Linked DNA regions of Homo sapiens: region 2 is linked to region 1. Evidence: fine-mapped expression QTL. A gene starts in region 1. The other region holds a variant in brackets. All regions are shown on one strand. Distances are between the middles of the regions.

Region 1 (16,109 bases):
ATGAACTAATTGTCCTATCAGTGGATGGCTTTACACCAAAGCACATGTGATCTACTCCCAAACAAAAGGACAAGCAGCAGTAACAGCCATCTACCAAAGTACACATAGACAAAACCAGTGCAGTTCGTAAGATTTTTTGGTCTTTCCCAAGATTTTGGAAGTTCTCATGTGCAATCTTTACCTCTACTATAGACTATCATGTAGACTGAGAAAAGAATAAAATATTCTTTCCTTTTCTTGCCTTAATAGCCTAGTTTTTACATGCAATAAATTTAAAACCAGAGCAGAGCAAGCCTGTCCTGCAAAGACCCCAAACTCTACATGTCCCATTGGAACTCGTTATCTCTACTGTCCCCATGCTCCACCCATGTCTAACACAGATATGCCACCTGCCCCATTCTAGAGTTCCCTTATATAAATTAATGTCATCACCAACCACTGCACACCAGATATTTGAGAGGTGCTCTAAACTCTTCTTTCTCCAAAACATCCTTTAATCAATTTAGTCCTCTTTTGTCACTATTATTGCTGCCTTAGTTAAGGACTCCATCATTTCTTTCCTGGACCACTGTAATAACTTAGTTCTAGTCTCTCTTCTCTCTAATTCATCATCATCATCTGGTTCTAGGATTACATTTTAAAACCATGAATTTGAGGCCGGGCGTGGTGGCTCAACGCCTGTAATCCCAGCACTTTGGGAGGCCGAGGCGGGTGGATCTCCTGAGGTCAGGAGTTCGAGACCAGCCTGGCCGACATAGTGAAACCCCATGTCTACTAAAAATACAAAAAATTAGCCAGGGATGGTGGCAGGCACCTGTAATCCCAGCTACTCTGGAGGCTGAGGCAGGAGAATCACTTGAACCTGGGAGGTGGAGGTTGTGGTGAGTGAGATTGTGCCATTGCACTCCAGCCAGGGCAACAAGAATGAAATTCCATCTCAACAAACAAACAAACAAACAAACAAACATATAACCCATGAATTTGATTATGTCTCTTCCTTCATTCAAGTGTTTGCTATGGCTTCCATTGCCTATAGGAATCAGGCCCAAATTCCAGCCGACTTGACTCCTGTGTTCTCCTCCTTTGCCATGTCGTGATACTCCTTTTCAGATAGTCCTTGTACATGTCCACTTGCTGTTTCCAGAAAGTTCCAGGCTCCAGAAGATAGTTTGTCTTTTTCTATGATATTCTCTTGTCCTGGAATGTCTTTCTCATCTCCTTCAAGACTCAACATTAAGACCCAACTCAAGACTCAACTTATAGGCTCAACTCAAATTACACAACTTTTGTCAAAACTTCCAAAACAGGCCTTAGCTTCCCTTTTCCCCATAATGTCTTTCCCCTAGTTTCCCAAAGTCTTGAGATATACTTCTATTACAGCACTTAGCACATTACTTTATAATTATTTGGTTACAGGTGTTTCTCTGTAGATAGATTACAAACTCCTTATGGAAAAGCTGTTTGCCATCCACTCATTTTAGCATAATGTAAAATTTTAGATATTGGTTGAATTAGTGGATAAAAATGAGTAAATAGGCCGGGCTCGGTGGCTCACACCTGTAATCCCAGCACTTTGGAAGGCTGAGGCAGGCGGATCATGAGATCAGGAGATCGAGACTATCCTGGCTAACATGGTGAAAGCCTGTCTCTACTAAAAATACAAAAAATTAGCCAGGAGTGGTGGCGGGTGCCTGTAGTCCCAGCTACTCGGGAGGCTGAGGCAGGAGAATGGCGTCAACCCGGGAGGTGGAGCTTGCAGTGAGCTGAGATCACACCACTGCACTCCAGCCTGGGCGACGGAGCAAGACTCTGTCTCAAAAAAAAAAAAAATAGAGTAAAAGTATATATTTAGGAATAAATATTATAATAGGATGCTAACTTTGCTCTTTAACTGTTATATCAAATAATAAAGACTAGGGCTAAGTTAAAGCCAGAGACATGCAATGCATTAATTCTCAAATCAGAGCCCTAGTTACATGACTGTCATGAGGCATTAAGCAAAAGTGTGTTTTAATTCAGATCATTACAAAAAAAGATTTTTATTATTTTTAGATTGAATCAATAGAGAAAATTGCAGGTATAAAAATAAATCAGACTTGTCAGAATCGGAATATTTTTAGTACATTTTAAAGAAGCTGTCTCAACATGTCATCTAACATGTGACTTTTTCCTGGGCAAAGAAAGTATGAAAAGAACTACTCAATTTGCAATTTTCCTTTGTTTTCTGCATCCTACCCTCCACAAAACAATGAAAACAGAGGGTTCAAAATTCATTGGATTTGACATTTTCATTGTCTACAGTGTAATTTAATGGGATGAATTTTGAAAAATGCTTCATTTTTATTGTGTTTTTACCAGTCCTAAGACTATTTATTCTGGGAGTGGCCTTGAAAAGAGGGCAGGCTCTGAGATTACGTGACTTTTTTTTTTTCCATAAATTTTTGGCAGCCATAGAAGTAACACTGTAGAAGTAGTCACAGTGATCTTCCCATAATTTAATTTGCTAAAATCAGCTGACAGTTTATAGCTTTGCCAAAACTGATGATTTGCTGCCTTTTTTGCTGACAAGAAAGCAACATGGTCACCTCCTCCTAATTACGTCTGGGATGGGCTTGAGCAAGGTTAGGTCAGGGGTGGCAGCCACTGCTCAAATGCCATTGAGCTTAGATGCCCTCGGGTGGCCCCTTGAACGAGTTTTCAAATAGGACTTTTTAATATTGAATCCTCCAAATTGTGAAAGTCAGTGGTTTTCCAACTTTTGATCCACATTAATACATTTTCTGTCACAACTAGTACACACACACACACACACACGTTAATTAGAAGTTTCATGAAATAAATACTTTTACTATGTGCTTTATAGGCTGGTATTTATGTTGTCATATTCTAGCTTTAAAACTTGGGCAGGTTACATAACTTCTTTTCTCATCTTTAAATTGGGGATATTAGTACCTACCTCAGTACTTCCGCTATGATTAAGTGTAATTAACACAAAGTACTCAGCACTGTGCATGAAACAATATTTTTCCTCTCTATATAAATAATATTTAAGTAATTTAGGTTTACCTTGAAACATAATTTTTGCTATTTATTTAAAAAATGTATTTTTATGAGTTATTTTTTATGAGGCAATAACTCAAAGCCTGAAAAAGTTAAGGTCAGTGAAAGGCTTTAAACTCTGGAAAAATTGAAATCATCCTAATTTTAGCTGTCTAAATGTACTCTTTTTGAATGTATTAGCTATTCTTTAAGCCACTTAATGAAGAAACTAATATTATTCATTACCAAAATTGAATCCTTATTAAGTGCCTCAGGGTACAGGGACCAAAAAAAGAAGGCATTAATTGAAGTATATAAAATAGGGAATTGAAGTACTATGTAAAATAGGAAATCGAGTTTTTTAAAGTAGCGTCCTTCAGATGCCATTCCAGATTAAATGTAGATTTAGAAGGATAGGTGCATTTCATGAAACAGAACTACAGTTTCAATATTTGGTAACAAACACACAAAAAGCAAAATTTTTGAGTGGATTTGTGAGGGATGTCCTTTGCATGAATCTGATACAATTGTAAGCAGAGACTGAGGGACAACAGGAGCCACTTCCTACACCCCTGCCCCCACTTTTGGGTAGAAAATAATTTGACCTGCTCCAAAAAGGTAACTGCTTCTATCCTTAATTTTCATAATGCTACATTAGGATTAAGCACTAAAATCCAAATTTGAAAATTATAGTAAAATGTAAAGTATAACTTACTCTTTAAAAATAAACACGAAGTTTTCATTGGTCTCATTATTACCTCTGAGCTAAATAAGTGTTGCACAGCGCTTTATCATTTTCAAAGTGCTTTCACATTTGAAATTTGATCCTTCTAACAATCCAGGGAGTTTGGTGGATCAAAAGTTTTTATCATTTTCATTTTAAGATGCAGAAACTGAGTTTCAAAGAGATTAAATCGTTTGGCTAAGATTTATACAGCAAGGAAATTTTAAAATTCAACGTGGAGGCCGGGCGCGGTGGCTTACGCCTGTAATCCCAGCACTTTGGGAGGCTGAGGTGGGCAGATCACGAGGTCAGGAGATTGAGACCATCCTGGCTAACACGGTGAAACCCCGTCTCTACTAAAAATATAAAAAAATTAGCCGGGCGTGGTGGTGGCGGGCACCTGTAGTCCCAGCTACTTGGGAGGCTGAGGCAGGAGAAAGGCGTGAACCCGGGAGGCGGAGCTTGCAGTGAGCCGAGGTCGTGCCGCTGCACTCCAGCCTGGGCGACAGAGCGAGACTGTGTCTCATAAATAAATAAATAAATAAAATAAAATAAAATTCAATACGGATGCTCTTTCAACTGGTATGCCCTTAAAAGACAGAGCCTAATAAGCTTGTTTCATCTTGCCGTAACATAGGACCCACAGAGACACACACTATAATGATCCTTTCTATACTCCTTAGCCATTGAACGAGAGATCAAATAAACGCAGTAACATCCCTCAGATGCATGATTTGAGCATGGCTTGGAAAGTATTAGCAGTTACCTGGGTTGTCTTCTACAGCAGCTCCTCTGTAAATGCAGTTGACTGACTGATAGGTAGATGTGGCAAAACATTAAGTCAGCTGAGCAACAACAAAAATAACTCTAAGTCCTTACCTTGCAAGGGGAACCATGCCAGCAAGCTGAGAACTCTCCACCACATACTGTGCTGTGCTGCTGTGGCACCTTTGTCAACTTCCTCTAGATTCTGAGACAAATGGAGCTGAGTAGTTTCTTTTAAAGGGGGAGAGGCAGTAGATCTGTGACCTCATGTGTATCAACTCCTCCATCTGTCTGGAAGCCCCCTCTTAGTTAGCTGCCCCCAGAACACCTCCTGGTGGAACATTTTGGGGACCACATGTATTATCTTGATGGCAGAGAGGTGTGAGTGATGTGTTGGTGACAAAAATTGTTTTACCACAAGTGGGTAGTACTGGTAAATCAACTAGTTGCAAGGTTTTTAGAGGGAGCATGGGTGGGAGAAATACTGTAAAATGTCCCTGTGTAGTGACGTCATCCTTATTTTTACTTTTCTAGTTTATTAGATAAATACAATTAGATAATTTTTGCTCAACCTTTGGGAATATTTTATTTCTATGCTGACATCAATTTATAATTGTTGTCGGGGAGGAATTCATTCATTCATATAGATATACTCATTTTTGAAATCTATATATCTGTCCACCCACCCATCCACCCATCTTTTCATCCACCCACTCACAAATACAAATCTATTCATCCACCTATCCATCCATCCATCCTTCCATCCATCCACCCACACATCCATCCACCCATCCATTTATCCTTCCATCCACCCACTCACTCATGTATTACCTGCCCACTCATTCCCCATCCACCCATCCATCCATCTATTCATCCACACATCCATCCATCTCTCCATCCATCCAGCCAGCCAGCCATCCATCTATTTATCCATCCATCTATCCATCTATCCATCCATCCATCCATCCATCCATCCATCCATCCATCCATCCATCCATCCATTTATCCACCCATCCATCCATTCACCCATCCATCTATCCATCCATCCATCCGTCCATGACCTATTCATTCACCCACCCATCTATCTATACATGCAAATACTCATCCATCCACCCAACCACCCATCTATCTATCCACCCACGCATTCATCCATTCACCCACTCATTCATCCATTTACCCACCCATCTATCTATACATATGTCCGTCCGTCCATCCATCCATCCATCCATCCATCCATCCATCCTTCTATCCACCCATTCATCTTGTCACCTGTACAGCATCTAGTATGCACTACTTTGAGACATGCTCAAATAAAAAACATAAATTCCTTGTTTTTCAGGAGAATATAATCTAGTGGGGGAGACAATGTACATATGAACAGTTCTGGTATTTAATTTTCATTAATTGGACAAATTGAGATAGATTTAATGTAGTTTTTCCAGGAGCACACAGTAAAATATTAGTAAGTTTATGTTTAGAAAACAGAGATCAGTCTGCAATGCTTGGAAAATGAAAAGGAAACACTACTTACTGGCTCTAATTGAAATTAGTGTTAATACTCTGATAAATTTGATGAAGTTTGGGTAGGAAAAGTCTTACTCATCAAAAATGTCTTCCAAATATTTTGTTGGCTGGGCACAGTGGCTCATGCCTGTAATCTTAGCATTTTGGGAGGCTGAGGTGTGAGGATCATCTGAAGCCAGGAGTTCAAGACCAACCTGGGCAACATAGTGAGACCCCCATCTCTACAAAAAATACAAAAATTAGCTGAGCATGGTGGTGCATGCCTGTAGTCCCAGATACTTGGGAGGCTGAGGTGGAAGGGTTGCTTGAATGCAGGAGGTTGAGGCTGCGGTGAGCCGTGATCACACTACTGTACTGCAATCTGGGTGACAAAGTGACACCCTGTCTTAAAAAAATAAAAATAAAAAATCCTCCAAAACACAATATTTTGTCTTTCAAATTTTTCATTTTTTAATTTTTTCCCTTTTGCTCATAATATTCCATCCAGGAACTTCTAATTTTTATACTTGTCCTCAGTAGAAGAGAACAGTTTACCCAGGGTCACTCTTCCTCCATAGGGCATCCATGAGGGGGTCTCAAGGTCCTTTTCCCTTGCCTTGAGGTGGAGCAACTCTGAAGCTCCCCAAGGGATCAGGATCAGCTGAGATCTTTGTTGTAACTGCACCTCAGTCCAGCTTCTACCGATTCTCCAACTTGCTTCCTTCTTGTCACCAAGAGTACTCATCTATAAACTTCTGCACACGGATCTCTGTATCAGCTTCTGTTTCCCAGGAACCTGACCCACAACAACACTTGACATAGGTTGTCAACGAGTGAATGAAAGACTAAATTGACTCTTTATTTGAGATGTAAATGCTACTCTTTTTGCTCTGAAGTCTAAAAAGATGTTTGACTTACAATTTCCCCAGAGCATTAAAGAAGAGCTTACTTTAAATTGCACTTTGGACGATGGAGAGTGTATCCTTTTCATCCACGGGTGCCATATTCAACTGGTTGAAAACCTTGACAAATGTCACAATAGTCCACTGGACTTGGACATTAAGAACGGTTGGTGGGGGAAATGCTACAAGGTGAACTGGTGGACGACATACATGTGTGCTTTCCAGGGTCCCTGTTCTCATTACCCCCACTTCAGCCTGCAGCTCATGTAGTATTCAACAGGAGAGGGCAGCAGATTGTGGCTGCTCAGTGAATTGGGAGAAAAAGACGAGGTTGGAAGGTAATAAGTGGTCTACCTATTTTCTAATGGGAAAGAGTCTACTGAACAGTATGTGGGAGACCTCACAACTGATAGCTAGTTTGTCATTTTGGTCTCCGTTTTATGAAATCTTCATATTATGTTTCAATACTAATAGGAAATAACATTTGGTGGGGTGGCAGAGGGGGGACATATTTTGGAGAAATAAACAAACATCCTCTCTATTTTTCATCGTCACCCTTGTCAACCTGAGTTTTGGGGGTGGGGGGGTGCAAACATGAAAAATAAGACATTTATTAAATAGGCTAAAGATGAACTGTTTTAAGGGTCAGAAAACAGGGGATTTCCTTATGTCTAGAAGCCACTGGGTTTTTTTGTTGCATTTACAAAAGGGGCCTACACTTTCTTCTTGACCTTTCACAGATTCTGTGAAGAATCGTGACCTTTCCCAAGGTCAGAGTAAGAGGTGGACTCGCCTGCATCTACCAGAAGATGCCTCAGATAACTCACACCAAGTGTTGAGGTTTTCTGAGCACTGCTGTAAAACTTGCACAAAGTGACTGTGGAGTTTCTAAGCCAGAGCAGCAGCCTTTGAAATTAATTATTGATTCAGAGAGAAGTTTCCTAGCAGTAGTGGGAGCTTAGTGGGACGAGCATGGGAGTGAGTAGCAGACAGACCCAGGCTTGTCCCCTAGGCCCTGTCACTAGCAGCTGTGTAGCACTAAGCACACTACCTGCCTGTTGGAATCAGTTTCCTCACTTGTAAAATGGGAAGAATAATTACAGCCTGAGGTGACTGTCCAGGAATCATAAGGCAGGAGCTGAGAAAGTTCGACTGTAGCATTTTTAAAAATGAAGAATTGGCCGGGCGTGGTGGCTCACGCCTGTAATCTCAGCACTTTGGGAGGCTGAGATGGGTGGATTGCCTAAGCTCAGGGGTTTGCAACCAGCCTGGGCAACACGGTGAATCCCTATCTCTACTAAAATACAAAAAATTAGCCAGACTACGGTAGCTGTAGTTCCAGCTACTTGGGAGGCTGAGGCAGGAGAATTGCTTGAACTTGGGAGGCGGAGGTTGCAGTGAGCCGAGATTGCGCCACTGCCCTCCAGCCTCGGCGACAGAACGAGACTCTGTCTCAAAAAAAATAAATAAAATTTAAAAAACCCAAAGAATTAAGAAGTTTGCCTGAAGTGACACAGTGAGTCAGTGATACACACACACACACACACACACACACACACACACACATTTTTCTTTGTCTATGAGATTCCTTTGAAGGACTTCAAATTTTTATACTTGCCCTCGGTGGAAGAGAACCAGCTCACCCGGGGCCACACCTTCTTTATGGGGCACTCATGGATGGTTAAATTGAAAATATTATAATACCCAGAGCACCCAGCATCTTGGCACAAAAAACATTCTCCATAAATCTGCAGACCTCAGGTGGCTGGAGCAGCATCTCATCCCCACAGGAACCATGGTAGGTTGGGTGTGCCGGGAGGAGGAAAGGCATCATTCACCTTTTGTTAAGACTTCTGCCGAAAAAACCTACTATTGTGAACCTGGGCTTTCGTGAGGGTAGAAACTTTATTTACTCTAGTGAAATAGATCATTCTGAAAACAACCCAAATATGAGCTGATTTCAGAAGGCAATTGTGGTTTCGGAGAGTATACCACAGGATAGCAAGGGCCAGCTTCAGGCCCCAGCTCATGGAGCTCTGCCCAGATAAGTGACCAGCCCTGGCGTCTTCATCTATAAATGAGATTAGATGAAAGTTGTGGTTTCCAAACTGTATTCTGAAGAACCCAAGTATCCCCAAGACACCTCAGGCTTCTGCAATATTTTCATTGAAGTTTCTTTTAAAAAACATTTTCCATGATTAGTCCAGGCTCTGGAACCAGGCTGACATGGTCCTGGTCTCAGCCCTAACACTCATGAGCCGTGTGACTGTGTGTGAATTATTGAATCTTTCTAAGATTCAACTTCCTCTTTCATAAATCGGGAATAATAGTTTCTACCGAATAGAGTTGGTGAGAAGATTTAAAAAGCTTACACATGTGAAGTACTTAGAAAAGTGTCTGATAAATACAAGCACTCAAATGCTAGCTGTTACTTTGCTGGCCACTGGATGCCACCAATCTATGAATTGTTATGTCAGGTAAAATAGTTTTGATGCTGGATTCTGTGGATTTAGAATAAAATCCAAATGTTTCACCGTGGTCTATGATGAGATCAACCCACTTTTTCTGCAAGGGGCCAAGTATAAACATTTAAAATAGTTTTACTTCTCAACTCTGCCCTTGTATCCTGGAATAGCCATAGGCAATATGTAAATAAGTGAATGAGGCTGTGTTCCAATAAAATTTTATTTATATATACTGGAACTCTAATTTCATATATCAATCTCTTTATTCTTTGCTTTTTCCCCCAAAGATTTGAAAAGCTAAAAATCATTCTTAGCCTGCAGCTGTACAGGCAGGCTGTGGGCCAGATTCTGCTCACGAGTGAGATTCTGCACAATGAGCAATACTTTGCTGACCCCTGGTCTGTAAGACCCCATGTCTTTATAAGCCCCCCACTTTCTATCATGCTTACTACACTTTAGCTCCCCAGCCTCTTCTGTTCTAACCCAGCTAGTGTCTTCCCATGTGAGGGCTTCTGTATACACAGCTTCCTGATACCCTCCTCGTTTAGGTCTTCAGCCCAACCAGCTCCTGCTCAGTTTTAACTGTTGGTTTCATCATCACCTGTTCAGGGACGCCATGCCCTAACTAAGAGTGTAACCCCTGCCCCACATCCCTTCAAAGTTACTTTCTATCATATTACCCAGTTTATTTCCTAAAGAGCATTTATCAAAATCTGTAATTATCTTGTTTATTTATGTATTCATTCTCTGTCTCCCACTCCATCAGAGCAGGGGCCTTGCATTCTTTTTTGCCACTATAGCTCCAGCCTGCCACTCTGCTGGAAATAGTGTTCAATAAGTATTACAGAATGATGAATGAATCCACAAGCTCAGTATCTTAGTTTCATTCATTGAGTTGATAATACCTGATCTCCTTACTTTGTAAAATTGTTATGAGGATCAAATGAGGAAGTGTTTTTTTTTTTAATTATAAAGAGTTATACGAAGGGAAGTGGTAAATCATTAAGGCAACTTTCATGCGTGTCTGTGTGAAGAGACCACTAAACAGGCTTTGTGTGAGCAATAAAGCTTTTAATCACCTGGGTGCAGGCGGGCTGAGTCCGAAAAGAGAGGCAGCAAAGGGAGATAAGTGTGGGGCCGTTTTATAGGATTTGGGTAGATAAAAGAAAATTACAGTCAAAAGTGGGTGTTCTCTGGCGGGCAGAGTGGGGGTCACAAGGTGCTCAGTGGGGGAGCTTTTGAGCCAGGATGAGCCAGGAGAAGGAATTTCACAAGACAATGTCATCAGTTAAGGCAGGAACAGGCCATTTTCACTTCTTTTATGCTGGAATGTCATCAATTAAGGCAGGAACTGGCCATCTGGATGTGTATGTGCAGGTCACAGGGGATATGATGACTTAGCTTGGGTTCAGAGGCCTGACATTCCTGTCTTCTTATATTAATAAGAAAAATAAAACGAAATAGTGGTAAAGTGTTGGGACGGTGAAAATTTTGGGGGGTGGTATGGAGAGAGAGAATGGGCGATGTTTCTCAGAGCTGCTTCGAGCGGGATTAGGGGCGGCGTGGGAACCTAGAGTGGGAGAGATTAAGCTGAAGGAAGATTTTGTGGTAAGGGGTGATATTGTGGGGTTGTTAGAAGGAATATTTATCATTTAGAATTATTGATGATGGCCTGGATACAGTTCTGTATGAATTGAAAAACTAAATGGAATAAGAGAAGGAGAAAAACAGGTATAAAAGGTCTAAGAATTGGGACGACTCAGGACATCTGATTAGAGAGAGCCTAAGGAGATTCAGCATAGTCCTGCCAGCAAAGATTATTTATTTACTTCAAGAGTTAAGAGTGGCAGTTTGGGGATAGCACCAGGAGATATCAGCTGTGATGGCTTGGAGAAACAGTGTAAACCGGCAGTGTAAACAAGAGCAGGGCATGTATGAGTAGTTGAGAATGGTGAATAGGAGTATGACTAGAGAGAAGATAGTAGGGATGACAAGTTTTTTGGGGGCACAGTCTAAGTTGGTCTGGTGTCTGGAATGAGACTGGGGCCTAATAAAAAGGAGTGTCTATACAGGAGCTCAAATGGGCTGTACCTTGTAGCATTCTGAGGACAGGTCTGACTTCTGAGAAGGTAAAGTGGTAAAAGTATTGTCCAGTCCTTTTTAAGTTGGTGGCTGAGCTTGGTGAGGTGTGTTTTTAAAAGACCTTTAGTCCGTTCTACTTTTCCTGAAGACGGAGAACCGTAAGGGATATAAAGGTTTCACTGAATACCAAGAGCCTGAAAACCTGCTTGGCTGATTTGACTAATAAAGGCTGGTCTGTTATCAGACTGTATAGAGGTGGGAAGGCTAAACTGAGGAATTATGTCTGACAGAAGGGAAGAAATGACTGCGGTGGCCTTCTCAGACCCTGTAGGAAAGGACTGTACTTAACTAGTGAAAGTGTCTACCTAGACTAAGAGGTATTTTAGTTATCTGACTCGGGGCATGTTGAGTAAAGCTAATTTGCTAGTCCTGGGTTGGGGCAAATCCTCGAGCTTGATGTGTAGGGAAGGGAGGGGGCCTGAGTAATCCCTGAGGGATAGTAGAATAGCAGATGGAACACTGAGAAGTTATTTCCTTGAGGATAGATTTCCACGATGGAAAGGAAATGAGAGGTTCTAAGAGGCAGGCTAGTGGCTTGTACTATAGCATAGCCTGCCTTTGCTGGTGTGTGGCAATTAGGCCTGGTGGAACCGCCATCAATAAATCAAGCGTGATCAGGGTGAGGAACAGGAAAGAAGGAAATATGGGGAAATGGGGTGAATGTCAGGTGGATCAGAGAGATACAGTCATGGGGGTCAGGTGTGGTATCAGGAATAACGTGGGAGGCTGGATTGAAGTCCAGGCCAGGAACAATGGTAATTGTGGGACTTAACAAAGAGTGAGTACAGCTGAAGGAGCCGGGGAGCAGAAAGCATATGCATCAGGTATGAGGAAGAAAATAGATTTTGGAAGTTATGAGAAATGTAGAGAGTGAATTGAGCATAGTTTGTGATTTTTAGGGCCTCTAAAAGTATTAAAGCAGCGGCAGCTGCTGCACACAGACATGAGGGCTAGGCTAAAACAGTAAGGTCAAGTTGTTTGGACAGGAAGGCTACAGGGTGCGGTCCTGGCTCTTGTGTAAGAATTCTGACCACGCTAACCATGCCTAGGAAGGAAAGGAGTTGTTGTTTTGTAAGGGATTGAGGTTTGGGAGATTAATCGGACACGGTCAGCAGGGAAAGCACGTGTGTTTTTATGAGAATTATGCCGAGATAGGTAACAGATGAGGATGAAATTTGGGCTTGACTGAAGTAATGGGGGCTGTCTGTGAAGCCTTGCGGCAGTACAGCCTAGGTAATTTGCTGAGCCTGATGGGTGTCAGGGTCAGTCCAAGTGAAAGCGAAGAGAGGCTGGGATGAAGGGTGCAAAGGAATAGTAAAGAAAGCATGTTTGAGATCCAGAACAGAATAATGGGTTGTGGAGGGAGGTATTGAGGATAGGAGAGTATATGGATTTGGCACCACGGGGTGGATAGGCAAAACAGTTTGGTTGATAAAGCGCAGATCCTGAACTAACCTGTAAGGCTTGTCTGGTTCTAGGACAGGTAAAATGGGGGAATTATAAGGAGAGTTTATAGGCTTTAAAAGGCCATGCTGTAGCAGGCGAGTGATAACAGTCTTTAATCTTTTTAAATCGTGCTGTGGAATGGAATCTTGGCATTGAGAGGAGTAAAGGTGATTAGGTTTTAATGAGATGGTAAGGGGTGCGTGACCGGTCGCCAAGGAGGGAGTAGAGGTATCCTATACTTGGGGGTTAAGGTTGGGGGATACAAGAGGAGGATGCAAAGGAGGCTTTGGATTGGGAAGAAGGGCGGCAATGAGATGTAGCTGTAATCCAGGAATAGTCAGGGAAGCAGATAATTAAGTTAAAGTGTCTCAGCCTAATAAGGGAACTGGGCAGGTGGGGATAACTAAAAAGGAGTGCTTAAAAGAGTATCGTCTAAGTTGGCACTAGAGTTGGGGAGTTTTAAGAGGTTTAGAAGCCTGGCTGTCAATACCTACAACAGTTATGGAGGCAAGGGAAACACGCCTTTGAAAAGAAGGTAATGTGGAGTGGGTAGCCTCCGTATTGACTAAGAAAGGGACGGACTTACCTTCTACTGTGAGAGTTACTTAGTGTCTGTGTTGGTCCTGTAGGCTTCTGAGGCGATCAGGCGGTGTCAGTCTTCAGCTGCTAAGCCGAGAAGATCTGGGAAGGAGTCAGAGAGCCTTGGGCCAGAGTTCCAGGGGCTCTGGGAGTGGTTGCCAAGTGAGTTGAACATTCTGATTTCCAGTGGGGTCCTGCACAGATGGGATGTGGCTTAGGAGGAATCCTGGGCTGTGGGCATTCCTTGGCCTGGTGGTCAGATTTCTGGCACTTGTAGGAAGCTCCTGGGGGAGGAGGTTCTGGAGGAATGCCTGGCCGCTGTGGTTCAGGCGTTTGGAAGTTCTTGTTTGCTGGAGATGTGGCTGGGGTTTGTCTTACAGTGGAGGCAAGGAATTGCAACTTTTTTCTATTATTGTATACTTTGAAGGTGAGGTTAATTAAATCTTATTGTGGGGTTTGAGGGCTGGAATTTAATTTTTGGAGTTTTATTTAATGTCAGGAGCAGATTGGGTAATAAAATGTATATTGAGAATAAGACAGCCTTTTGACCTTTTAGGGTCTAGGACTGTAAAGCGTCTCAGGGTTGCTGCCAAACAAGCCATGAACTGGGCTGGGTTTTTTTTTTTTTTTTAATACTTTAAGTTTTAGGGTACATGTGCACATTGTGCAGGTTAGTTACATATGTATACATGTGCCATGCTGATGCGCTGCACCCACCAACTCGTCATCGAGCATTAGGTATATCTCCCAATGCTATCCCTCCGCCCTCCCCCCACCCCACAACAGTCCCCAGAGTGTGATGTTCCCCTTCCTGTGTCCATGTGATCTCATTGTTCAGTTCCCACCTATGAGTGAGAATATGTGGTATTTGGTTTTTTGTTCTTGTGATAGTTTACTGAGAATGATGATTTCCAATTTCATCCATGTCCCTACAAAGGACATGAACTCATCATTTTTTATGGCTGCATAGTATTCCATGGTGTATATGTGCCACATTTTCTTAATCCAGTCTATCATTGTTGGACATTTGGGTTGGTTCCAAGTCTTTGCTATTGTGAATAATGCCGCAATAAACATACGTGTGCATGTGTCTTTATAGCAGCATGATTTATAGTCCTTTGGGTATATACCCAGAAATGGGATGGCTGGGTCAAATGGTATTTCTAGTTCTAGATCCCTGAGGAATCGCCACACTGTCTTCCACAATGGTTGAACTAGTTTACAGTCCCACCAACAGTGTAAAAGTGTTCCTATTTCTCCACATCCTCTCCAGCACCTGTTGTTTCCTGACTTTTTAATGATTGCCATTCTAACTGGTATGAGATTGTATCTCATTGTGGTTTTGATTTGCATTTCTCTGATGGCCAGTGATGGTGAGCATTTTTTCATGTATTTTTTGGCTGCATAAATGTCTTCTTTTGAGAAGTGTCTGTTCATGTCCTTCGCCCACTTTTTGATGGGGTTGTTTTTTTCTTGTAAATTTGTTTGAGTTCATTGTAGATTCTGGATATTAGCCCTTTGTCACATGAGTAGGTTGCGAAAATTTTCTCCCATTTTGTAGGTTGCCTGTTCACCCTGATGGTAGTTTCTTTTGCTGTGCAGAAGCTCTTTAGTTTAATTAGATCCCATTTGTCAATTTTGTCTTTTGTTGCCGTTGCTTTTGGTGTTTTAGACATGAAGTCCTTGCCCATGCCTATGTCCTGAATGGTAATGCCTAGGTTTTCTTCTAGGGTTTTTATGGTTTTAGGTCTAACGTTTAAGTCTTTAATCCATCTTGAATTAATTTTTGTATAAGGTGTAAGGAAGGGATCCAGTTTCAGCTTTCTACATATGGCTAGCCAGTTTTCCCAGCACCATTGATTAAATAGGGAATCCTTTCCCCATTGCTTGTTTTTCTCAGGTTTGTCAAAGATCAGATAGTTGTAGATATGCGGCGTTATTTCTGAGGGCTCTGTTCTGTTCCATTGATCTATATCTCTGTTTTGGTACCAGTACCATGCTGTTTTGGTTACTGTAGCCTTGTAGTATAGTTTGAAGTCAGGTAGCGTGATGCCTCCAGCTTTGTTCTTTTGGCTTAGGATTGACTTGGCGATGCAGGCTCTTTTTTGGTTCCATATGAACTTTAAAGTAGTTTTTTCCAATTCTGTGAAGAAAGGCATTGGTAGCTTGATGGGGATGGCATTGAATCTGTAAATTACCTTGGGCAGTATGGCCATTTTCACAATATTGATTCTTCCTACCTGTGAGCATGGAATGTTCTTCCGTTTGTTTGTATCATCTTTTATTTCCTTGAGCAGTGGTTTGTAGTTCTCCTTGAAGAGGTCCTTCACATCCCTTGTAAGTTGGATTCCTAGGTATTTTATTCTCTTTGAAGCAATTGTGAATGGGAGTTCACTCATGATTTGGCTCTCTGTTTGTCTGTTGTTGGTGTATAGGAATGCTTGTGATTTTTGCACATTGATTTTGTATCCTGAGACTTTGCTGAAGTTGCTTATCAGCTTAAGGAGATTTTGGGCTGAGACAGTGGGGTTTTCTAGATATACA
Region 2 (8,000 bases), 31 kb before region 1:
TAAAAGACAAGCCTCCTACAAAAACCTCAGTAAAACCAATAGAATAGAGCGGCAAAACTCGCTGTATTTCTTGCAGCTCCTGGCGGGTAGAATAAGTTAGTTTGTATGGAGGAAATAATATGGTTGGAAGGTGGAATATTCTTGCTTTTCTATAGTCCTAGCTTCTGCCTTCCAGATCTTTATCAAGAATACAATCCCCAACCTCCACTTCCCATACACAATCTCCTTCCCATCCCGATTCTCTTCATTTTCTTTACATATTTTGTCTCAGGAATTGCAATGAAGTCATCCAAAGGACCTGACACATGCCTTCTTGAATTAATTGAGCCTATAGTCACTCATTTAACACAAATTTATCAACTAACCTGTGCTAGAATCTGAGGATACAGAGTAAATCTGATTACTCACCACCTAAAGGAGTATTGTAGTAGCTATGTAAAAACACCAAAAATTACAATATGGAGGAAGACGTGCTTCTATGACAAAGGTGTCATAGGATCCTCTGGTGGTCTTGGGGTATCCCTGTGTGTGACGTCAAACAGTCAAGGATGGCTTCCCAAAAGGAAGTCACCTTCTGCTACATGAACTTAACTGCTACTATTTATTTTTGCAGATGAGACTCCTTAAGTTCTACAGGATGATTTAGGAGACTTTCTAGTGCTAAAAAATCAGATTTTGATTCTTCTCCTTCTTTTTATTTATTTTTATTTTTATTTTTTTGAGGTGGAGTCCCTCTCTGTCACCCAGGTTGGAGTGCAGTGGCACGATCTCGGCTCACTGCAAGCTCCGCCTCCCGGGTTCACGCCATTCTCCTGCCTCAGCCTCCCAAGTAGCTGGGACTACAGGCTCCTGCCACCATGCCCGGCTAATTGTTTTGTATTTTTAGTAGAGACAGGGTTTCACTGTGTTAGCCAGGATGGTCTCGATCTCCTGACCTCGTGATCCGCCCGCCTCGGCCTCCCAAAGTGCTGGGATTACAGGCGTGAGCCACCGTACCCAGCCTCCTTCTTTTTAAAGGCGACTACTTAATTGCGATGGTTAATTTTAAGTGTTAAGTTGGGTGGATTAAGAAATACCTCAAATCTGGTAAAGCATTATTTTTGGGTTTGTCTATGAGGTTGTTTCTAGAGGAGATTAGTGTGTGAGTCTGAGTGGAGTAGGTGGGCATTGAGATTTGCCCTTGATGTGGATGGGCACCATCCATTCTGTTGGGGGCCCAGAAAGAACAAAATCAGAAAGAAGGCAAATGTGTTGATCTGTCTGCTGGAGCTGGAATACACTCCCTCCTCTCTCCTGGCAGCAGAACTCGAGACTCCCTAGCTTCGGATTTCAGGACTTAACGCTGGCGGTCCCCTGAGTTCTCAGGCCTTTGAACTTGGACTGAGCCAGGCTACCAGCATACCAGGGTCTCCAGTTTGCAGACCTCCTGTCCAAGGACTTGTCAGCCTCCATAATCTCATGAGCCAATTCCCCTAATAAATCCCACCTCATACACACACACACACACACACACACACACACACACACACACACACACACATATTCTGTTGTCTCTGTCTCTCTGGAGAAATCTGACTAATACATTAATGAACCTCATTGTTCAGATCTCAGGTCATACAGTTGACTTACATTGGCCATTTTTCTCTTCAGATGATGTTTCTTCATTATTTGACCTTGATCTGTAACTTTCTAGTGTGTGTTCTGAAACTTCGTTTTCTACAAAAAAAGAAAATCAAGCAACTAATTTCTGATGCCATGGACATGTAGAAATGTATATTTGAATAAGATAATACCTCTGTTACTGTGCAATAGTAGACTTACCATGCCCCTCCCATAACTCATACCTCATTAATTCAACACATAGTTTTTGATTCCTGTAGGGACTGTGCTAGGCAGTCCTGGGATTTTTATCCTTCTGTGAATAGAAGTGTCTATCATTTAATGCCAATTTCTGGATCTATGCTAGTTTCTATTGATTATACACTCTTAGACTATAGTCCCTGGAGATTCACACCCGAGTTTACTAGAAAACAAACAATTGCTTATCTGAGACAGCACTTATCAAATAGATTATGTAGTGTCTGACAGAAAGCTTTAATGGACAGAATTTCCCTTTTTTTTAGCCATTTGTTCTGGCGTCTTATAGCCCCCGTCAGGTTCCCTGCCCACTGACCTTTCTTCCATATCACATGTGCTTTCCTCAGCTTCATGATGAAGAGCTGGACTATGATGAAGAGTATGAAAATGAGGAAGGACACCAGCGTGAGCAGCAGGATGCCACTTTTCTTTCTTGCCAGTCCTAAATACTGAGGATTTGCTTCTATAAGGAAAATGAAAAAGGAGTTTAGATACTTTGGGTTTTTTTTTTTTTTTTGCCACTGGAGAATATGTAACAATACTTCTACAATGTGATATAAGCTAATAGACAGCTCAGATGAAGAGATGAGAAAGAGCTTACCCCTGAAGGTAAAGAGACTTACATTGTTCATTCTCTGAGAACAAGCAAACAGGCATACAACAAACAAGGCAATTATGTGTGATGATTTGAAAAGATTTTTTAAGTGACGTAGCTATTGGGCTAGTTATTTTTTATTTCTACAGAAAGCATATGAGAAAATCGACTTAAGTTATAGTCAGGAGATTCAAATTAGCTTTAGGAATGATTTTTAGCAAAATATAGTTAAGTAGCAAGAGGGATTGTTAAGGAGTTTAAAAAACTATCCAAATAAAATGAAAATTTATTTATCTTGGTTAGGTTAAATGTGGCCCTACAGGAAGGCATTTGGGCTAAATCAGATGAGCTTGTGAAAATATTTCTAGCCAGGTGCAGTGGCTCATGCCTGTAATCCCAGCACTTTGGGAGGCTGGGATGGGAGGGTTGCTTGAGGCCAGGAGTTTGAGACCAGCCTGGGCAACATAGTGACACTTTGTCTCTACAAAAATAATAATAATAAAAAATTAGCCAGGAGCAGTGGTGCACACCTGTAGTCCTAGCTACTTGGGAGACTGAGGCAGAGGATCACTTGAGTCCAGGAGTTTAAGGTTACAGTGAGCTATGACTGTGAAACTGCACTCCAACCTGGGAGACAGATGAGACCTGTCTCTTAAAAAAAAAAAAAAAGGCTTTCTAAACCTAGAATTCTGATTCTATGGGCTGTAGTCTTGCTAAATGTCCTAGTCACCTCATCTTAACCAATGAATAATTAAGGAGTGCCAGCTATGTGTAGAACATTGTGCTTGGACCTACAGAAGGCACAGTTCACATGCTTTGGGGATTAGCTGTCTCTATATATAAACAAATTAATAAAAACAAACAAAAGTAAGATATGTCAAATTCTGGATCCATATGTATTTATATCATAGTGTGTTCAGGGGTTCAGAGGCAAGAATGGTCTCTGAGGGTTGAGTTGGTCAAAAAAGTTTTCAGTGAAGATATTGGCCTTGAAGAGGGAGTAAGGAGAGGTGAGAGGAGGTCTCCTCTTCCACCAGGGGCAGTGAGGATAAACAAGGGCAGGGCGATTGAAAAGGGTTGATGTTTTCAGAGAAAAATATGTATCTCATAAGGACTTTGTAGATATGAGACTGCAGAAGTAGGTAATAGATGGCACCTAATGAGGTGTTTGGGACTCATGCTCTGTGTTGTAGACTTCAGGAAGCTATAAAGGGTTTTAGAACACAGGTATGCAGATAAAGAGATATTTTGATGGTAGGGTGCTAAAAGTGAACCAGAGGAGGAGAAACTGAAGTTATAATACTCCATGCAGGAGATGATGAGAGCCTGGATTGGGACGTTAACAGTGACAATGGACAAAATACCTGAAAGACAAGACTCAAAAGTTCTTGGAAATTGACTGATTTTATATACGTGTGTGCATATGCATATACATATACACATAGATATATTTGTACACATACATAGGAGTGATAGATAACACCAAGGTTTGGGACCCGTGTGTTGCTTTGGGGCCTGTGTGATGCTTTGGACAAGCTGATTTTGTGGGAGAAGGTGC[T/C]GTTTGGTATTTAGCAATGTTGAGTTTGGGGAAATCACAGAAAATTCAGCTACAGATACATAGAAAATGGAAAGAAATTGGGAGCAATGCTGAGGAGGATGTTCTGGAAATATAGGTATAGAAATCTTTTGCTTACTGGGCACAGTGGCTCACACCTGTAATCCCAGCTATTTGGGAGGTGGAGGTAGGAGATCTCTTGAGCCCTGGAGTTCAAGGCTGCGGTGAACATGATCGTGCCCCTGCACCCTGGCCTGGGAGACAGAGAGAGACCCTGTCTCTAAAAACAAAACAAAACCAGAAAAAAAAAAGAGAGAAATCTTTTGCCTAGTGGCAACAGGAACCATCTTGGGAATGAGTAAACTCTTTAAAAAATAAGGGAAGAACAGCCGGGCGCGGTGGCTCACGCCTGTAATCCCAGCACTTTGGGAGGCCGAGGCAGGCAGATCACCGGAGGTCGGGAGTTCAAGACCAGACTGACCAACATGGATAAACCCCATCTCTACTAAAAATACAAAATTAGCTGGGGTGGTGGCGTGTGCCTGTAATCCCAGCTACTCGGGAGGCTAAGGCAGGAGAATCACTTGAACCCGGGAGGTGGAGGTTATAGTGAGCTGGGATTGCACCACTGCACTCCAGCCTGGGCAACAAGAAAGAAACTCTGTCTCACAAAAAAAATATATATATATAAAAAAAAGGGAAGAACAAAAGATGGAGAAGTAAAATCAGAAGTACATACACATTTAAGAAGTCAGAAGAGGAAGATAAGTTAATTAATGGATACAGAGAAGCAGTGGTTAGCAACAAATAACAGAACCAGGAAAAGTATGTCAAGAAGCCGAGAGGTAACTAAATCAAGGAGGGACAAGGGAGTGATTAACCAATCATGTCCTAAAGGGCAGAAAGGTCAAGAAAAGGGAGGACTGACAAAGGCCATTGAATTTATCGATTAAGAGGTTAAAATGTCGAGTGTTTATTCTAAATGCAGTGGGTGACACTTACCGGTGGTCAAGTCAGGATCTTGAGTGGTTTGTTCTTTCTCTTCCTTGTCAATCTCCGATGTACTAGAATCTTCCGTTACTGAGACTAAAGTGAAAGAAGATAAAACATGAGCTATGCATGCATTATATACATGTGACTACATACAACTGTAGTTACGTAAGTCTTCCCAGAGCAGCTTGGGAAGCCAAATTTAAAAACAGTACTGAGATCATTTGTGAACTATGGATTTCTTGCAAACATAATTGCAAATGGCTAGGCTCACTTTGCCTTATTTTTTTAAGGTAAATGTTTTGGGCATTTACTCTGTGCCTGGCCTTGAACTGAGCACTTGGTATATATTATTTCTCACCACAGCTCTGAGAAAACGGAGGTTTAGAGCAGTTATGTAAAGTACCTAAAGTCCTGTAGCAAATAAGTGGCAAAGCCAATACATAAACTCTGTTTTACCTAACTCTAGAGCCCAGCATTTAAACCATTATTTCATATTTCCATCCTGAATCAGGCCTATTAGGGAGAAGGTCTTTAGGATGCTTCAAGATAACAACTGAACACCGAGGAACGGCATTCCAAGCTTTAATTATAGAAAACCTACAGCCTGAAATTTATGTTGAAATATAGCTTCAGTTATTCAAACCTCTGCTTGCCTCCCCATTAGAAGTGGGATGTACTATGATGTTTTTTCTAGATAAGATAAATTATAAAAAATCAGAAACTGTGTGGTTTTTTTTTCCAGATTTTACTGCTGATGTTTCCAATTTCCTTTTTTCTCTCTGCAGTTTCTTGCTTTTTAGTCCATTGCACAGCGCCACTATGTGGACCCCGAGGGGAATGAAGCCTCCCATTCTATTGAAAATGGGTATTAAATGTAATAAAATCGTAGAAATGGAAAGCTGAAAGGAATTTTAGAAACCCTATTTTAAAAGTCTTATATATGAAAAAGCAGAGCAGAAAATTGAGTTGCTCAGTAGCAAGCCGTTAAAGATTACTAGATTCTAAACACGTTTACAAATATTGGATTATTAAAGCAAGTGATGTGGCTGTTCCACTTCATAATATTTTCAATTTCCATTGTCCTTCAAAAAATTGTATGGTACATGTTGTATTTATCAGTGTTTAGAAATCCCAAACATTTACTTTTAAATATTATTTAGGATACAAATTTTTAAAAATATGATCTGATACTCAGAACTATGAACATGATAATGCTCTGAAAGCCCTTATTCCAACAAATGAAATTATTATTGACACATTACATGAAATGGAAAGAGAATATGTAGGAATTTATGCCTTTCTGGATGAGGCTAATAGTCTTGCTCAAAGCACCATAACCAATTCTTTCTTTCTTTCTTTTTCTTTCTTTCTTTCTTTTTCTTTCTTTCTTTCTTTCTTTCTTTCTTTTTCTTTCTTTCTTTTCTTTCTCTCTTTCTTTCTTTTTCTTTCTTTCTTTTTCTTTCTTTCTTTTCTTTCTCTCTTTCTTTCTTTCTTTCTTTCGTAATTCATTTTCTGAGAAGCTGCTATTGCTGGATACTATGCTAGGTAAAATACAAAGTTAAATTAGATATACAATCATTGCTCTGAGTTAACCTCTAGTGAGTTCACTGTCTAAAAAATTGGAATTATAATCCAGGCTTTCTAAATTATTCTGTATTTGTAGTTCAATCCCATCATCAAAAATGACCTGAGTTATTGACAATCAAGTAATTGATGTGCCTTCAGAGGTGATTTTGTTATTCAATGACAACACCAAATCTCCAGCTTCTGCTTCTTTTCTCTTTGTTGATACCAAGTCTGTGTTTTGTGTTTGGTGTGCTTCAGATGGGAAAACAAAGAAACGAGTCTCTCTATAAATGAATTCAACTTTGTCCTTTACTGCAGAGGAAATTCAAATGTCACAGTCGTGAATGTGTGTGTGTACATGTGTACATCTCTATCTCAGGCAAACTAGAACTGAACTTGCAAAGCTTTATGTCAGCCTGAAGCCCATCCCACTAAGTATTCCGATGCCTGATGTGGTTCTTCTCTAGGATGGTACAAAGCTGGAGCCAGTTGGAGGGGCCTGTATGGTCTTAGTAAAAATTAAAACAAAAAATATTCTTAAAACTTAGAATGAGAAAAATAACCTTCCCAAGGAAACGTGATTTTTTAAAAACAAGTTTGAATGATTTTGACACTTACCAGTACTGGTGGGCTGCTGTGGGTCTTGAGAGGATAGAGAGTTTCTCTCCAGAGCATCTGAAGCTGTCTCTTCATCAGTAACTAGGAAAGGGGAAAAACAAAATTCTGCTACTATAGAGAGCAGTTTTACCCACATTGTGCTCAGTAAAAGAGATTGGAGAATATATTTAGCGGCTACCTGCTTGTAGAGGTTGTGCAGAAACCCCAGAACTGTGTGTTCTGTGGCTCCTGCTCTGGTTTTTGAATCTGTATCCCACTGAGTGTCCATCTGCTCACCTGCCTGGCTTAAAGCACAGCATGCTGGACCTCTGTGTGGTGGCAGTGGTAGGCAAAGAGTATTCACTGTTTCTATCTGTGTCCTTCTATCCATCAATCAATCCCTCTGTCTGTTTATCTACCCATCCACCTATCTATCTACCTATTAGATGGCTTTGGAATCAGCCTCAGACTGGGCTGAATTCCAGTGCTGCTATTTACCTGCTCCTGAATGAGTTGGACAAGATACCCGACCTAGCACTTTTTTTTCTCTTATCTGTAAAATGGAGATACTGACAGCATTTACCTCTTCGAGTGTTTTGTGAGAATTAGTAAGTTCATTTATATAACATGTTTAGTACAATGCCTAGCTATTTATGAAGCACAGTGCTAAATGTTATTGTATAACATTAATCAATGCTTAGGAATGTTTCCAGAGGGTCAGCCTAGTATAGGTTTTACCAGTCATTGAACAGGTTTTACCAGCCACATCCAGGAAGCATGTAATAACTGTGCCTGTCACTTTACAAATACTAACACTGACATGTCGGGTGGGCACAG

The links. PIP is the estimated chance that this variant, and not a neighbour inherited with it, causes the effect.
Region 2: its variant is the best candidate, but not a certain one, in a credible set for the expression of CRTAM in whole blood (INTERVAL, PIP 0.65).

Annotation. Positions count from the first base shown.
Region 1 is chr11:122,827,126-122,843,234 of GRCh38, reverse strand. CRTAM (cytotoxic and regulatory T cell molecule) reads right to left here and starts at 4,735. Exons shown (of 10, transcript NM_019604.4): 1 at 4,643-4,735. The coding sequence starts at 4,688. RefSeq lists an enhancer at 10,387-11,059.
Region 2 is chr11:122,861,729-122,869,728 of GRCh38, reverse strand. It overlaps CRTAM (cytotoxic and regulatory T cell molecule), which reads right to left. Exons shown (of 10, transcript NM_019604.4): 6 at 7,185-7,265; 7 at 5,010-5,093; 8 at 2,174-2,320; 9 at 1,630-1,716. Among named protein-coding and RNA genes, the nearest start is that of JHY, 17 kb to the left of the region's middle. The variant T/C (reference allele first, on the strand shown) is at 4,011.